Regions from separate parts of the Homo sapiens genome. Here region 2 is linked to region 1. The links come from fine-mapping of genetic effects on gene expression. A gene starts in region 1. The other region holds a variant in brackets. All regions are shown on one strand. Distances are between the middles of the regions. Region 1 holds the start of PPEF1 (protein phosphatase with EF-hand domain 1). Region 2 holds the start of TRV-TAC1-2 (tRNA-Val (anticodon TAC) 1-2).

Region 1 (5,376 bases):
TATGCCTTCTTTTGAAAAAATGTCTGTTCATGACCTTTGCCCACTTTTTAATGGAGTTATCTTTTTTTTCTTGTTGAGTTGTTACAAAACTCTTAAAGTAAGACGTGAGCAAAAATCTTTTTGGACTCGGGAATGGATTCTTAGATATGACACCAAAATCACAAGCAACCAAAGAAAAAATAAAGTGAACTTCATCAAAAGTAAAAACTTTTGTGCTTCAAAGAACACCATTAAGAAAGGATGAAGAGAATTCAACAAATGAGAGAAAATATTTGCAAGTCACATATTTGATAGGAAACTTGTATCTAGAATATATAAATTTATCTTACAACAATATAAAAATAAATAATTCAATTAAAAATGGGTAAATGATCTGAATAGACATTTCTCCAAAGCAGATATACAAATAGCCAATAAACACATGAAAAGATGCTCAATGTCATTAGTCACTACTGAAATACAAATGAAAACCATGGTGTGATACCACTTCATACCCACTAGGATGACTAAAATCAAAAGGACAGACAATAACAACTATCGCTGAAAATGTGGAGAAATTGAAACCTTTATACACTGCTGGTAGGAATGTAGAATGGTGCAGTCACTTGGGAAAACAGCTTGGAAATTTCTCAAAATGTTAAACATAAAGCTACCGTATGACCCAGCAATTCCACTTCTAGGTATATACCCAAGAGAACGGAAAACATATGTTCACAGCAGCATTGTTCATAACAGTCAAAAAGCTGAAACAGGTCGGGCACAGTGGCTCACGCCTGTAATCCTAGCGCTTTGGGAGGCCGAGGCGGGCAGATCACCTGAGGTCAGGAGTTCGAGACCAGCCTGGCCAACATGGTGAAACCCTGTCTCTACCAAAAATACAAAAATTAGCTAGGTGTGGTGGTGTGTGCCTGTAATCCCAGCTACTCCAGAGGCTGAGGCAGGAGAATCGCTTGAACCTGGGAGGCGGAGGTTGCAGCGAGCCGAGATCGCCCCACTGCACTCCAGCCTGGGTGACAGAGCAAGACTGTCTCAAAAAAAACAAAAAACAAAAAACAAAGCTGAAACAATCCAAATGTCTATCAATTGATGAATGGATAAATACAATGTGGCATATTCATACAATGAAATATTATTCCACAATAAAAAGGAATATAGTACTGATACATGCTACAACATGGACAAAGCCAGACACAAAAGGTCACATAATATATGACTCCATTTACATGAAATGTCCAGAATAGATAAATCCATAGAGACTGAATATAGATTTGTGGTTGCCAGGGGCTGAGAGGAGAAAGTGCTTAATGGATAAGGGGTTTTACTTTGGAGTGTTGGAAATGTCTCAGAAGTACATAGGGGTTGTGGTTGCACGACACTGTGAACATACCAACTGCTGCTGAGTTGTTCACTTGACAATGGCTAATTTTATGTTACGTGAATTTCACCTCAATAAATCACAGGTATTTGAAAGAAAAAGCAATCCAAAAATCTAAGCTAATATTTCCACTTACATGCAATGTTTTAAAAGTTGAAAAGTATTTCAAAAAGAGAGAGGATTTGTTTTTACAAGTTGGACTTGGCTTTTTTTTTTTTAACCTAGGAAATTTGGCTAAATTTAAAGAACTGTGAGTAATCCTAGATATAAAAAGATAATTTCTCTTTACTCTCTGCTAATAAACGTCTACTACAGCAGTAGAGTTCAGATGGAGCTTTTGAAAGATTTATTTCATGACATGCTTAAAGATTTGAAAGAGTCAGTACACCTCCTATGTCCCTTCCTACTTTCAGAGATGAGTTTCCTACATCATCAGCACAAGTCAGCTGGGTAGGAGAATAACATTTGATTCCCAAAGTAAAACATCCCACGCTAATTAGTATAGCACACTCTGCATCCTAAACCCTCCACCTTAAGCCTGAATAAACTTCCAAAGGCAAGACGTGGAATAGAAGTTGGGGGAATTACCTATAACCTAGACATCAAAGAAGTGGAGTTTAAGAGCAAATTACTCATATTAATTGTCCCAGCTTATTTACTTGTTTTTATTTTAATTTGCTTGTTGGAAACTCTATCCCTTAAATGCTCAAGTTTGTTTCAACTAGATGCCAATAGCCATGAGAAAGAACCTCAGTACAAAATAAACAAAGTGAATATTTAAGCTTCTAATTATATGGGGGTACAGAAAGGCATGCCATCTATTTAGAAACAATACACCTTTTTTTTGGAAACAGATGATCTAGCATTCTCCCAATTCTCCTAGATTATTTTTAAAACGTGATGCAAATCTCATGAAGTTCTGTGTTGAATAGATATAGAAATAATGTGATCATTGAGTTATAAAATCCAATAAAAATTCAATGATGCTACTAAATGTCACAAAAGTAGGGATATAGCTATTTATAAAAGTATTGAAGAAACACATATAAATTACACTGCCTTTCTTGTTCCCTGCCACTGAGTTTTAAATTGAGATTTTATATTGGTACATTATCGAATGAAATTAAATCAAACACAAAATATCTCTAAGACAATACTTTATGGTACTTCATAAATTCAAAGCTACATCTTCCTAAATGTAGTTTCCTATGCTACTCTAACGATGCCTTGTGCAAATCACACAGGGCAGCTTGAGCATCGTGGGAGTAAATGAGAAAGGAGAAGAGGGTGAGGGCAGCTCATTTTCCCCTTTTCATTCATAACCACAGGCACATTCCCAGTACTCACATGTGTCAGATCTCCTGGTTTTCGTTGAAGAACTGCTGCATCCCATGACTTCTATCTAAATCATATGTGTTCATGAATTCAACTTCTGATTTTAAGACAGAGTGTGAAAAGTGCCTCCCTTTAAGCTGCGAGGAACCACTCTTAGCCGATCCTCTTCAGTCATAGATTCTAATGAGGAATACACAGGAGGGAGGGAAGGAAACCGCCAGTTAACCACATGGTAGCTGAGGGGCTGCTCAGCAGGATTCATTTTACGCTTCTTCTGAATCGCTGTTCATCATGTGATGTGGAAAGTGATCAGACATAATCTAATCCTGGCTTATTTTCCAAAACACAGCAGCAGCTACAGAGCAGCTATAGGCTGCTTCTCTGCTAGACATAAATGAGTTTCTCCATGTCTAGGTCACATCCAGCTCTGTATAAAATAGAGCATTCAAAATGAAAAGAAAAATCGAAATATGAGAGTGTACGATTTTCTAATTTAAATATGGGGAATGGGATGTGGAGGAGCTGACATAATTAACTGTTTTGGTTTTCAGCTCAAAGTAATTCAACCTATCTAGGCTTTTAAAAACACAAATTGGAAGTTGACTATGAGACAAAAACAACATATTTAACAGCTATGCTGAAATTCAAAGTGAGTTCTTTGACAGTATTTCGCGGAATAAGTTGGGAACATTTGTTTTAAAAAAAAGGAGGCAGCCGGTCGCAGTGGCTCACGCCTGCAATCCCAGCACTTTGGGAGGCCGAGGCGGGCGGATTACGAGGTCAGGAGTTCGAGACCAGCCTGGCCAACATGGTGAAACCCCGTCTCTACTAAAAGTACAAAAATTAGCCAAGCATGGTGGCACATGTCTGTAATCCCAGCTACTCAGGAGGCTGAGGCAGCAGAATCGCTTGAACCCAGGAGGCGGAGGTTGCAGTGAGCTGAGATCGCACCACTGTACTCTAGCCTGGGCGACAAAGCGAGACTCCATCTCAAAAAAAAAAAAAAAAAAAAAAAAAAAAGGAGGTTTGAAACCTCCCCCCAAATTTAGGAATTGTAATCTGTGAGAGTGTCCTTTTATTTATTTTATTTTTTGAGACGGAGTCTCGCTCTATTACCCAGGCTGGAGTGCAGTGGTGTGATCACAGCTCACTGCAGCCTCAACCTCCCAGGCTCAGGTGATCCTCCCGCCTCAGCCTCCCTAGTAGCTGGGACTACAGGCATGCGCCACCACACCTGGCTAATTTTTTGTATTTTTAGTAGAGACGGGGTTTTGCTGTGTTGGCCAGGATGGTCTCGAACTCCTGACCTCAGGTGATCCACCTGCCTCGGCCTCCCAAAGTGCTGGGATGACAGGCGTGAGCCACCGTGCCTGGCCAAGAGTGCCCTTTTAAACAAGCTCTCTGGGCACTGCTGAGGCCCCTCTGGAGTCTAACTTTGTGTTCTATAGTCCTTCTCATGAGCTCCCTGACTCCCATAATCACTTCACGGGAGTTTTCAACAAAATTCCTTTCCATAGTATACTGTCACGTCACTTTTTAGGGTGATGTTTCCTTTATTTTGTGATGCTCCAAACCAACCTGATCTAATATATTTGCATTCCTTTTTTTTTTTTTTTTTTTTCAGACAGGGTCTCACTCTGTCACCCAGGATGGAGTGTAGTGGCACAATCACGGCTCGCTGCAGCCTTAACCTCCCAAGCATGTGCCGTGACACCCGGCTAATTTTATTTTTTTGTAGAGACAGGGTCTCCCTATGTTGCCGAGGCTGGTCTCAAACTCCTGGGCTCAAGTGATCCTCCGACCTTGTCCTCCCAAAGTGCTGGGATCACAGGTGTGAGCCATCTTGCCCAGCCCTATTTGCATTTCTTGACAGGCACAAAGTCAGCAAACAACTGACATATCTATCTTTCCATTGGTACTACACCAAAAGCTTCAAAATTTCAACTCGACTGAAGAAAGGGAAAACTAAAATAAGCAAAATATTTGAACTATGGCCATGTTTTGAAAATAACAATAAGCTTAGTAAACAGATTTTCTGACCAGAGGTGAACCTGATTATTTTATGTATTGAATGAATTAGCCTTCCTAAACTTTGGGTTACTTCCAAATTTTTATTTATTTTTTGAGACAAGGTCTCGCTCTGTCACCCAGGCTGGAGTGCAGTGGCGCAACCATGACTCACTGCAGCCTCCACCTCCCGGGCTCAAGTGATTCTCCTACCTCAGCCTCCTGAGCAGCTGGAACTACAGGCATGCGCCACCATGCCCAGCTAATTTTTGTACTTTTTTGTAGACATGGGGTCTCACCATGTTGCCCAAGTTGGTCTCAAACTCCTGGCCTCAAGCAACGTGCCCACCTCAGCCTCCCAAAGTGCTGGGATGACAGGCATCAGCCACCGTGCTTGGCTTTATTTCCAAATTCGATAGGCATTTCTTTCGTGTCTTCCTTATCTACATCATGGCTAAAGAACATTAACAAGATCAGATCCAAGGGCAGGATGAGCCCTGTGGCATCCCACTCCAAACCATCCTCCAGGTTCACCACAGATCCGTTACCTTCATACTCGCTGAGCACATTTGTTCAGTTAGCTGGTAAACTCACCTATCATAACTCTCATTTATCTGTGAGACATCCTGGAGAATTTTACTAAATATTTTAATAAAATG
Region 2 (5,376 bases), 31 kb after region 1:
TGCCACCATACCTGGCTAATTTTTGTATATTTAGTAGAGACGGGATTTCATCATGCTGGCCAGACTGGTCTCAAACTCCTGGCCTCAAGTGTCTGCCCACCTTGGCCTCCAAAGTGCTGGGATTACAAGCATGATCAACTGTGCTTGGCCAGTAAGAGGATTTATAACCAGAGAGGCACAAGCCTTGTAGGCCACTGTAAGGCTTCAGCTTTTCTAGTTGAGGTAGGGAGCCATTGAAGGGTTTTGCACAGAATGATGAGAGCTAATCTGAATCTTGAAAGGACCACTCTGGCTACTGTGTGGAGAATAGTCTGTAGGGGGGAAAGGGCAGAAGCTGAAAGGCCAAGATCTGAGGCTACTGGCTATGATCCAGGCAAAATGTGATAGTGGCTTTGATTAGAGTGTAGCTGGGGAGATGACAGAAAGCTAGCATAGATAGATCTTGCAGGTGGTGCCAATAAGCTTTGCTAGTAAGATTACACTGGGGGTGTAAGAAAAAGAAGAATCAAGTATGATTCTTAGTTTTAGGCCTAAATAGCTGGAAAGATGAAGCTGCCATTATCTGCGATAAAGAAAACAGAGGCCAGGCACGGTGGCTCACGCCTGTAATCCCAACACTTTGAGAGACCGAGGTGGGTGAATCACTTGAGGCCAGGAGTTTAAGAACAGCCTGGCCAAAACAGCAAAAGCCCATCTCTACTAAAAATACAGAAAAAAATCAGCCGGATGTGGTGGCGCACGCCTGTGATCCCAAGTACTCGGGAGGCTGAGGCACGAGAATTGTTTGAACCCAGGAGGTGGAGGTTGCAGTGAGCTAAGATGGCGCTGCTGCACTCCAGCCTGGGTGACAGAGCAAAACTGTCTCCAAAAAAGAAAAACAGATCAAGAGAGAAGCGGATTTAGGGGCAGAGATCAGAAGCGTGGACACAGACATGTGAGATGCCTAACCTAACAGACATCTAAATGGAGATGTTGAACATGTAGGTCTGGAGTTTGAGAGAAAAGTCTAGACTAGAGATACACACTGGAATCTTCTAGGTTCTCAAGGGTATTGAAAGCCATTAGATTGAATGAGGTCGCTGGGGTGGTGAGAACAAATAGAGAAGTCCAAGCACCGAGACCTCTGAGGTACGGCTGTGTTTAAAGGTCAAAGAGATGAGGCTCCAGCAAAAGTGACCAAAAAGGAGTATGCAGTGAGAGGAAATAAACATCGCGAGAGGTCCGCATCCTAAAAGCCGAGGGGAAGGTACCTCAAAACAGAGTGATGGGTTGTTTTCAATGCTGCTAGTAGATCAAATCTGATGAAAAGGAAGAGCTATTCTGTGTAGCAATGTGGAAATCACTGGATCAGAGGAATTTTGGTGGAGTGCTGGAACAAGTCCCAGTGGGGGGACAGAACTGGAGAGAGCACCAGACCAATCTAAGAACTGTATTATAAAGGAGAGCAGAGACATGGAAGTGGCACAGGTGGAAGTGGAATTAAGAGCTTTTTTCCTGTTTTTTTGCTTTTGTTTTCGTTTTTGAGACGGGGTCTCACTCTGTCGCCCAGGCTGGAGTGCAGTGATGCGATCTCAGCTTGTTGCAGCCTCGACCTCCCCAGGCTCAAGGGATCCTCCCTGCCTCAGTCCTCCAGAGTAACTGGGACTACAGGTGTGCGCCACCATGCCTGGCTAAGTTTTTTGTATTTTTTTATAGAGATGGGGTTTTGCCATGTTGGCCAGCCTGGTCTTGAACTCCTGAGCTCAAGCAATCCGCCCGCCTCAGCTTCCCGAAGTGCTGGGATTATAAGCGTGAGCCATCGCACCCGGCTTTTTTTTTTTTTTTTTTTTTGCCAGGTTCTCACTCTGTCACCCAGGCTGGAGTGCAGCGGTGCAATCATGGCTCACGACAGCCTCGACCTCCTGAGCTCAAGGGATTCTGCCCGCCTCACTCCCCCAGAGTAGCTGGCACCACAGGATGTTTGGCAGCGCCCCGGCCTCTCCCTCCTGGGTGCCTATAGTACCCCTCTCCCAGTCATAACCAACAAAAGCGTCTCCAGATATTGCCAAAGAACTCCCAAGATTTTGTCCCCCAGGGGACATTTTGGGTCATCACAACTGGGTGGTGGGGGAGGATGTGTGCTACACGCATCCAGTGAATAGAGGCCAGGGATGCTGCAAAACATCCTACAATACACGGGACAGCCTCCTACGACAGAGTTAGCCAGTCCCAACCCATCCTGATCCAGAGGAAGAGCACGAGAGCAGACGGTGGCTGGCAGGGGACTTCCAGAAGTTCTCTTCTGATTGCTTCCATTTTTTCACCGCAATAGGAAGCTAGATCATCAGCTGTAACCGAGATTAGGGTTGGGGGTACAGGAGGTTTACGGAGATAAGACATGAAACCGTCCTTAGAAGTGGACACGTATTCTGGACTGCAGAAAGGGTTCACTTGAGCTAAGCAGTCATGAATTTAGTGTGAAACCAGTCAGCTTGGATGTGTTCTTCTTGGGCCATGTTCAGGGGCAGGGTAGGGAGACAGTCAGATGTAAGAGATTGTGGTTTTACCAACAAGCACAAGGAAGAAATGAAAGGGCAAACAAGCAAGTGATAAAAATGACCACAGAATTTGAGCTGGGTGGGGCCGGGCGCGGTGGCTTACGCCTGCAATCCCAACACTTCAGGAGGCCGAGGTGGGCGGATCACTTGAGGCCAGGAGTTTGAGATCAACCTGGCCAACATGGTGAAACCCCATTTCTACTAAAAATACAAAAAGTAGGCCAGGTATGGTGGGGGGGCGCCTGTAATCCCAGCTACTTGGGTGGCTGAGGCAGGAGAATTGCTCGAACGGGAGGCAGAGGTTGCAGTGAGCTGAGATCGTGCCACTGCACTCCGGCCTGGGCAACAGAGCGAGACTCCGTCTTAAAAAAAAAAAAAAAAAAAAAGATTGTGATGACACCTTGCGAGGGGCGGCGGGGAGAACAGAACACAGTTTCCCTCCTGGAATGGAGAAAAGGAACAAGAGTTTTTCACCAAAGGCAGATACCTGTGTCGCATGCAACAGAGGGACACCAGCTTCTTTTCTGCACAGAGGTTAAGCATGCAACAGAGGGACACCAGCTTCTTTTCTGCACAGAGGTTAAG[T/C]GTGGGAACTTGGCAAACATACCTTTATACCCAGGGGCAGACAGAAAAATCGGGATGTGGGGGGCTGGAGAGCAAAGCATTTCCTAGAGACACCATCCAAAACACAACCAGTGGGTGTAACTTTAGGGCCAGTTCCTGGCAGTCTTGTTTTCGACCGCTAGGGGTTTGGAAACAGGTGGGATACACTTATTATCAGGCTTCCCAGGAGTCCTGAGGCTCACTGACTAGTGGGAAACGTGGAGCTCTCAGGAACGTATCCTCCGGCCGGTGGCTGGCCACTCTGGTCATCTCGTGGCCCACAATCTAGGCATCAAGCGCTCGAGAGGCCTCTGAAAACGTCTCACCAAAAAAGCAGACTAGAAGGGGGCCCCATGATGAATATGACAGGGAGCTAACTGAGGACATCGGGAAACGGGTACTAGAAAAACCCACGCCACTAGCTGGCCTGCCTCTACTTCTGGGCGGGGGGCGGGGGTGTGTGTGTGGGGGGGATTACATGGCAGATAACTGCCTCCGTTTTCCTACGTGGAAGATGGGCATAACATTGAGACCCAGAGGTGAAAGGGGACGTGTTTAGTCCAACCCTTGTATTTACAAAGGAGGAGACTGAGACCAGAGGTGAACTGACTAGCTCGAGCACCCAGCTCATGAATGGCCAAATCAAGACGAACATCCAGATCCCCACCTTAGTGTTCCCTGCACCCACCTGGTTTCTTCCAGAGGCCTTCCCAGGAAGACAGGAGTTGGCTGAAGGGAGTTCCTGCCACAAAATCAGTATCACTTATCAACCTACCGACCTCAGCAGAAGATCCAGAGAAAAGGACAGCTGCTGCCTGCAGACCAAGTTCACCTGGGCGCTTAAAGATGCCCCCCCCCCCCCGCCCAAATGATTGCAGGTGGGTTTTCAAGCTTGAGAATGGTGAGCAATCCTAGGGTGGTGACGAAGATCCACCTGGAAGCCCTGAAGAAGGCAAATGACACTGACGATGAAAAACAAGAATCACCCTTTGTGATGGAGGGTCCCAGCCCGTTACCCAGACTACAGTCCTGCAAGCAAGTCAGGGACCCCGCACCAGGTTGAATACTCTGCTGTTACCGTGTGAAATTCTCAAAAACTTAACAAGGGGCCTGGCATCTTCATTTTGCACTGGGCCCCTCAATCACGTGGCCAGGGCCGCTGCCACCCTGGAAGCCATAGACGGGTGGCCCCGTCTACACGTCTTCGTCCCCCAACCCCTGCAGCCCTAGACTAAGGAGACCTAACGGAAGCCCTGGCATTTGCACCCCCTAGGCCTGTCCTCGGGAGGGGAAGAAGGCTGCGGGAAGGGGCAGGGGAGCGGGTAGAGGTCCACACCCTCGGGCAAAGGGCCCGCTAACCAGCGGCCCGTCCTCCTTGCTCCGGAGGCGAAGCCTTCCACGCCGCCGCAAGCGGCGACGTCCTGACTTCCGACCGGCAAGTGGGCCGGGTGGCCGAGGCTCAGTTTGCCGGTTGGGAAAATGGGAAGGCGCGGGGCCCTCGCGGGCGGAGGAAGCTGCCGGGGGCGCAAAGCCCGAGCAGGGTGCACTTCCGGCCGCCGGGCCGCCCCGCCGGCGCCTCGATTGAGGGAAAGTTTGGGGACAGATGATAGCAGGGAGGTGCTCTCGGCCGGGGTTCCGGCCTCGCCCTGGTCCCAGGGGCCGCGACTGTGGCGGGCAGGGAAGACAAGCCGCCCAAACGCCGGAGCCCGAGACTCGAAGCCGCCGCAAACTCCTCGCCTCGGGGGCGGGGTCACGGTGGAGAGGCGGGGCTCCGGCGGAGGGACCGGAACTGCTGTGAGTCTATGAATAAAGTCCCAACAATATTCTTCCTCGTAGAGGTTCCATAGTGTAGTGGTTATCACGTCTGCTTTACACGCAGAAGGTCCTGGGTTCGAGCCCCAGTGGAACCATAGCCGTAAGGCGGCTGTTTTTGCTTTTATAGGGTTTCGTTGTTTGGGTTAAAAAAAAAAAAGGGTTTGGGTTAAACAAACAAAAAAAACCAAAAAGCGACAACGAAGTGTTTTTCTTTGTCCTTTTTTTCTTTTTAATTTTTTGGCATGTTTTTCTCGCAGAAGTGAAATGACAGATACCCTCTCCTATCCCACAAGGTCACTGCCGCCATAGTCCGACATGAGAAGTAGTGGAGGGCAGGGGCCGGGCGAAGTCCTAGACCCGATCCGGCGCCCCCGATCCGGCCGGGCCCTACCCCACCTCTCCTCCCAGTACGCCTCGGAAA

Evidence for each region.
Region 2: its variant is fine-mapped to the expression of PPEF1 in whole blood (TOPMed, PIP 0.95).

The regions. Positions count from the first base shown.
Region 1 is chrX:18,705,173-18,710,548 of GRCh38, reverse strand. It overlaps PPEF1 (protein phosphatase with EF-hand domain 1), which reads right to left and starts at 2,904. Exons shown (of 16, transcript NM_001377996.1): 1 at 2,723-2,904. The coding sequence starts at 2,768.
Region 2 is chrX:18,674,583-18,679,958 of GRCh38, reverse strand. It overlaps TRV-TAC1-2 (tRNA-Val (anticodon TAC) 1-2), which reads left to right and starts at 4,978; the gene lies at 4,978-5,050. It also overlaps a transcript of PPEF1 not described here. RefSeq lists a silencer at 4,867-5,053. The variant T/C (reference allele first, on the strand shown) is at 3,123.